Linked DNA regions of Homo sapiens. The gene in region 2 interacts genetically with the main gene of each other region. Each region holds a gene or a part of one and is shown on either strand. Other genes may lie near its edges.

Region 1 (3,654 bases), on a different chromosome or scaffold from region 2:
GCAGATCACCTGAGGTCAGGAGTTTTGAGAGCAGTCTGGCCAACATGGCAAAACCCTGTCTCTACTAAAATCACAAATATTAGCCAGGCATGGTGGCGGGCGCCTGTAATCCTAGCTACTTGGGAGGCTGAGGCAGGAGAATTGCTTGAACCCAGGAGGTGGAGGTTACAGCGAGCTGATATTGCACCACTGCACAACAGAGCGAGACTCCAGCTCCAAAAAAAAAAAACAAAAACAAAAAAAATTGCCTGACTTGTTAATTTCCTCATCTGTTAAAAAAAAAAAAAAATTGGTGGTGGGGGGCAGGTAGGGTGGTCTGGGCACAGTGGCTCAAGCCTGTATTCCCAGCACTTTGGGAGGCCAAGGTGGGTGGATCACCTGAGGTCAGGAGTTCGAGACCTGCCTGGCCAATATGGCAAAACCCCGTCTCTAATAAAAATACAAAATTAGCTGGGTGTGGTGGTACACGCCTGTGGTCCCAGGTACTCCGGAGGCTGAGGCAGGAGAATTGCTTGAACCCGGGAGGTGGAGGTTGTAATGAGCTGAGATCGCGCCACGGCACTCCAGCCTGAGCAACAAGAGTGAAATTCTGTCTCAAAAAAAAAGAAAAAAAGAAAAAGGAGCAGGGCAGGGGGTGCGGAGATAGGGGAGAATGTTGTGAGCATTAAAAGAATGTTCAATACTTAAAGTGTGTGGAACATGACAGGTCATCAATACGGGTGCAGAACATGGACTGAAACCATTGGATGACCTGCCTTTTTACAGCATGTCCACTATGAATTCCCAGAAGCCGGCTGGAACACTTGATTATAGAATCAAATGATTAATAAGTGTCAAACTGCCTAGAGATGTTTTTGCAAGAATATTTCTACATCACTGAGGATCATTTTATATTCTAGGCAACTGACGGGAATAACTTCACCAGAACTGTATGGCTTTCACACTTCTAAGTATCTGAAACCTCATTACTATTTCATTTTTTCCCAAAAGCATTCCTGAGATCTGTATTTTTTTTTTTTTGAGATGGAGTTTTACTCTTATTGCCCAGGCTGGAGTGCAATGGCATGATCTCGGCTCACCACAACATCCGCCTCCCAGGTTCAAGCGATTCTCCTGCCTCAGCCTCCTAGGCAGCTGGGATTACAGGCATGCGCCACCAGGCCTGGCTAATTTTGTACTTTTAGTAGAGACGGGGTTTCTCCATGTTGGTCATGCTGGTCTTGAACTCCTGAATGCAGGTGATCCGCCCGCCCTGGCCTCCGATAGTGCTGGGATTACAGGCATAAGCCACCGCGCCCGGCTGAGGTCTGTGTTTTTTGTTGAGCATGGGCTCTTCGGGAGGATGGGCTAAATCTTTGCTCTAGATAATGCTTAGCACATTTTATTTAATACTGGAGAGGCACTCCAGTATTAAATAATATCAATCATCATTCTATTTTGGGTACTTGAAAACCAAATAAGCACACAGATTACAAGGTTAGATTAAAAAAGAAAAGATTTAGAGCTGAGGTTTGCTAGTTTTAGGAAGCCAAATAAGAGCAAATAAAACTATAGCTAAGGTAAAGTCTGTCTTTAAGTAAGGCTTCTAACATGATGAACAGAATATACTGAGGATGAAGAGAAGTAAAAATCTAGTATAACTTGCTGAGTTTTCCAAACGTGCCTAGATAAACCCATTAAAAAAGAGGAGGAGAGACTCTACGGTCTTTTTTTTTTTTTTCTCGAGACTGAATCTTGCTCTGTCGCCTAGGCTAGAGGGCAGTGGCGCAATCTCAGCTCACTGCAACCTCTGCCTCCTGGGTTCAAGCGATTCTCGTGCTTCAGCCACCTGAGTACCTGGTATTACAGGTGGCTGCCACCATGCCTGGCTAATTTCTGTATTTTTTATAGAGACAGGTATCTCATTATGCTGCCCAGGCTGGTCCTGAACTTCTGAGCTCAAGCAATTCACTCACCTTGGCCTCCCCAAAGTGCTGGGATTACAGGTGTGAGCCACTGCACCTGGTTGAGACACTACTTTCACACACTTTTACATTTCACACTTCTATGAAGACAGGGTCTGCAATCTGGCAATGTCTATGATTTAGTGGGAGGTAGAAGGAGGCCCAGGGACAGAAACATAAACTTTCCATGTCAGGATGTTGGCTGTGACAAGCATGCCCAAGACTTTGGACATGATTTTTCTGTTCTAGATCTGTTTGTTTCTTTCTTTTAATACCTTGATTTTGCCAAAAGCCTACAGTGTTATCTTGGCTTTTATTTCTGTGACACATTCATCCCGCCAATTTGGAGATTAAAAAAAAAAAAGGTGCTGGGTATGGTGGCTCATGCCTGTGATCCCAACTCTCTGGGAGGCGGAGGCTGAGGTGGGTAGATTGCTCAAGGCTAGGAGTTTGAGACCTCCTTACTCTGTTTTGGCAGTATGGGCAGCAGACAGTGAGACTCTGTTTCTACAAAATATTAAAAAAATTAATTGGGTATGGTGGCATGTGCCTGTAGTTCCCAGCTACCGGAGAGGCTAAAGCGGGAGGATTGCTTGAGCCCAAGATTTGGAGGAGGCTGCAGTGAGCTATGACTGTACCACTGCATTCCAGCCTGGGCAACAGAATGAGACTGTCTGAAAAAATAGGTGAGGTGATGAAATAAGCTAGCACAAGTAACTGCTGTTAAGAGTGACAGAGAACTTCCTTCTTAGAAGACTTTTCTAATCAAGGTACCAAAGTTGTAATAGTTGAGTAAAAAATATTATGTTCCAATGGTCTTACTACCTGGTTCTCACTTTGGGGTCCTGCTAAATGCCTCAGAATTTGAGACATGCCACTGAATCACAGGGTAAAAAGGCTGTTCAGTTTTTCCACTTTAAACCTCCTTTTTAAAGCAGTATAACATAGCTGTTCTATTCAAGGATGACACGGTGCCTTTCAATTCCTCTGGCCATGAATGTTGAGACAACCTATTAGAAGACTGGATTAAGAAAGGGTCTGATTTTTATTACTTGAAATCACAAGAATAGTGTGGTGAATATTCCTCTTCTTTCTCCAAATATGTAGTATGCAGAATTACTAAGGGCCGAGGGTGGGAATCAATGTTTGCTCATTCTTTTCAAAGCCATTTTAATCACCATGAACAAACAAATGTGGCCCTCTGGCTGAAAGATTAAGTAAGAGTCATGTGGCCCCATCAAGTAAATGTTAAAAATGTCACACATCAATTTTGTACCTCTACTGTGTTCCATATTGGACAAAGCAAAGCCCCTTAAAAGCTATTTTTATGGACGGAGTTGAAATTAGGAATGGGCTCATGCAGAAATATTTGTAATAATATTTAAACGAAATCCTTTGGGTAAAAAAAGCATAATATAAAAAGGACACCTCTCTTCCCATGTCATTCCATAGTTGCTCACATGACTACATACCTGATTCTGGATTTACCAAGAAACTCCCGTACACCCTCTTTAATAACTAGAAAATAAAAACAAAACAAAACCAAATACGTTAATCCAAAGGCCATGATAATTTCATTATTTTTAAAGTACTGCACTTGCCAAGCTCTTCCTAAGTTGGCATTCTTCCTAACTTTCATTTGGTGGATGGGAAAGTAGAGACAGAGGGGAAGTGGATTTAGTCACCAAACAAGTCACAAAACTGAGATGAG
Region 2 (3,654 bases):
AAATGCTAAAGTATTAGGACTGCTTAACCCAGGGTAAAGAAGCCTAAGAAACAATCTAACAATATAGGGCTATTTCAAAGACAAGGCGATATGCTTATTTTCCATCTCCACTGATGTTAAATTTAACATGAAGATCCAAATTACATGTAAAATATGCTAATAAATATGTTCTGAAAATGAGTTAACAAGGACAGTTGGGGAATGTCCCCTCCTGGAGGTCTTTGAGATTAAATAAATCCTCATCTGCTTGGGATGGAAGTTCTACTCCATGACCTTCAAGGTGTCTTACAGGTCTTTACTTATCATTCTGCTGCTGGTCTTTACTTTGGTAAATTTTCATTAAACTAAAAAAATCTGAAAATAATCCTCAAAAACATGATAACAATTTAAATTTACTCAAGGAATTTTTTTTTAAATCCTAGTATTTCCTTGAGTAAATTTAAAAATGACAACAAAGCAAAGGTAAAGTTGGTAATAGTACCTTTATATAAACCACACCTTAGGCAAATAATTCATTTTGTAAAATTTATCCGGTAGTTGTAGGTTCTCTAATGTTGAGAAGAAGATAGGAAAATACTGCTGATGAAGTTTAAAAAAATCAACCATCAAACAATTATATTTCACTAGTACAATTAAATCTAACCTTTACATATGATGTCACAATACCAAGAAACCCATAAAAATAAAAGTTACAATAAAAAGATTGTCTTTTAGGTCCAGATAGGATACAAATTTCTACCCTCTCACGAAACTCTGAAATACACTTCCAATCAAAATGCACAGAGAGTGAACATCATGGACCCTGACATACTCCCAAGGAAAGTAAAGTTCCCATATTAATGGTTACATATAACTTGAAACCCAAGGTACATTTCAGATAACTTAACTTTCAGCATAATTATCTTGTAATAAGTACTCATGAAAATGGTCAGAGAAACCTTTATCTGTATCAAAGAATGGTCCTGCACCAGTAATATGCATATTAAAACAAGATTTACCTCTATTGTTGGATCATATTCGTCCACAAAATGATTCTGAATTAGCTGTATCGTCAAGGCACTCTTGCCTACGCCACCAGCTCCAACTACCACAAGTTTATATTCAGTCATTTTCAGCAGGCCTTATAATAAAAATAATGAAAATGTGACTATATTAGAACATGTCACACATAAGGTTAATACACTATCAAATACTCCACCAGTACCTTTTAATACAAACTCACCTTTATATGAAAAATTATTTCAAAATACCTTACAAAATTCAATCATGAAAATTCCAGTTGACTGCAGACGTGTATCGTAATGAACTGTACTTCATTTACAAACTCCTCCATCGACGCTTAAGAAAAATGCATAAATGCTACATAGACAGTTCTTTTATCTTAAAATCAAGTTGTTCTATCTAAATAGCCAGACTGCTGTTCTGCGGCGGCTAAAGGCTCTCAAAGGATCATATCATGACTTCACTCATGTAGAGACTTCACAGTGCTCTACACCCTGTAGCACACCCTCACAAAAGTTGCTGACAGCTATCTCCACTCTTATTGTTACAGTTTTCCTAGTGGACCCCCACCTCTAAGTGTTAGAAGTCAATATGCAACAGCTACAGAAAAACTTTTAAAGCATCATGGCAGTAGTTCTCTTGGATAAATATTAACAGTAAGAATCAGATGAGAGTTGAGAGAATGAGTGTCAAATAAAGCTGGATTGTGTCATGGGGAAATAAAAATTTAAACACTGAGGCAAAGAAGAACAATATTTGACGACATTTTAATGTGTGAAATATCTCTGGGGAAAATAGGAGTCCGAGGTTGCAATGAGCCGAGATGGCGCCACTGCACTCCAGCCTGGCGATAGAGCAAGACTCCGTCTCAAAAAAAAAAAAAAAAAAAAAAATCTCTGGGGAAAATAAAGCTAAAAACCAAGAGAACTCCGAATTAACTGTTCAGTACAATACATAATCCTGTATCACCGCTGCACAAAAAAAGATAAAGATTAGAAAGCCGGGTGCGGCGGCTCATGCCTGTAATCCCAGCACTTTCAGAGGCCAAGGCGGGTGGATCACCTGAGGCCAGGAGTTCAAGACCAGCCTGGCCAATATGGTGAAACCCTCTCTCTACTAAAAATACAAAAATTAATCAGGCGTGGTGGCGCTCTCCTGTAGTCCTAGCTACTGGGGAGGCTGAGGAAGGAGAATCACTTGAACCCGGGAGGCAGAGGTTGCAGTGAGCCCAGATCACGCCACTGCACTCCAGATTGGGTGACGGAGTAAGACTCCATCTCAAAACAAACAAACAAACAAAAAGATTAGAGATAAACACTGTTTTTAGTAAGAAAACAGCTGTTAAGAGATGCAAGTGAGCCGGGCACGGTGGCTCACGCCTATAATCCTAGCACTTTGGGAGGCCGAGGAGGGTGGATCACGAGGTCAGGAGATCAAGACCATCCTGGCTAACCCGGTGAAACCCCGTCTCTACTAAAAATATAAAAAAATTAGCCGGGCGTGGTGGCGGGCGCCTGTAGTCCCAGCTACTTGGGAGGCTGAGGCAGAAGAATGGCGTGAACCCAGGAGGCGGAGCTTGCAGTGAGCCGAGATCACGCCACTGCACTCCAGCCTGGGCGACAGAGCCACTCCGTCTCAAAAAAAAAAAAAGATGCAAGTGAATATATCTCAGTAATCAGTAATCCATGTGACTGTTACTCTTTGCTTTTCATACACTGTCTCCCAAGAGGTGCATGAATATTGACAGATTGTATAACAAACACCATACAGAAAATAAAACATATTTTTTAGTTAGTTGTTTCAAATTTTTTGAAATAATATGAATGTTTAATTTCACCTCCTTTCCCTCATGTAACACATAATTATAAATAAGGAGAGAAATGCAGAAAAAAATGGGAGTAAATGCACAACTATTTATTATAGGATGAGTAGCTCCAAATTAATGAATGTGCATATATTGTAGATAAACACTAAATATACACAGCATCATAATTGACTGAAGACCCAAAATAATAATTTGGTTTCCCAAATGATAACATACTAACCTTACTCCTAAGCCCTGCCGCAAAAAGCACCACAGGCTAGAAAAATTGTATCACACACGGTCACGGCATAGTTCCCCGCCTTACTCTGCTCTACCTAGACTTATTGGCTGCTTGTCTAGGGTGAAGTTAACAACCACTACAAACATGTATCTTATCCCGTTTGCCTCCACGCTTTATTTCAAATGTAGGCCAAAGCAATTAGGAATAGATGAGGAGAATTACACTAAAATGTATCTTCTAGCTCTCTGCCTACCCCAACCTCCCCCCAACCAGTTTGCATAGCCTAAAACAGTTCTCAAAATGTGGTCTAGGAACCCCTCAGGTTACTAAGACTTTTCTGGTGTGCAAGAGGTCAAAACTGTTTTCATAATAACATTAAGATGTCCTTTACCCTTTTAACTCCCATTCTTTCACAAGTTTTCCAGATGTGTGATCATAATAGATTGAATGCAGATGCAGATATAAGAATCCATATCTTCTATTAAGCCACATCATTAAAGAGATTTACTGAAGTGTGAAACAATACCACTTTTCTAAGTTTTGGTTTTGTTTTGGAAAATAGTTATTTTTCATAAAATATTTTATTCATGTTACCAAGTAATGGGCT

What was found. Genes that interact genetically often act in the same process or in processes that back each other up.
Region 1: changes in KRAS (region 2) and ARPC2 are lethal when combined (synthetic lethality), as found in Homo sapiens cells (2 studies listed by BioGRID, with this or other methods).

Annotation. Positions count from the first base shown.
Region 1 is NC_000002.12:218,234,159-218,237,812, reverse strand, and holds part of ARPC2 (actin-related protein 2/3 complex subunit 2), read right to left. Parts: intron 3,462-3,654; coding exon 3,416-3,461; intron 1-3,415. UniProt on the Homo sapiens protein: Actin-binding component of the Arp2/3 complex, a multiprotein complex that mediates actin polymerization upon stimulation by nucleation-promoting factor (NPF).
Region 2 is NC_000012.12:25,244,276-25,247,929, forward strand, and holds part of KRAS (GTPase KRas), read right to left. Parts: intron 1,121-3,654; 5' UTR 1,110-1,120; coding exon 999-1,109; intron 1-998. UniProt on the Homo sapiens protein: Ras proteins bind GDP/GTP and possess intrinsic GTPase activity. Plays an important role in the regulation of cell proliferation.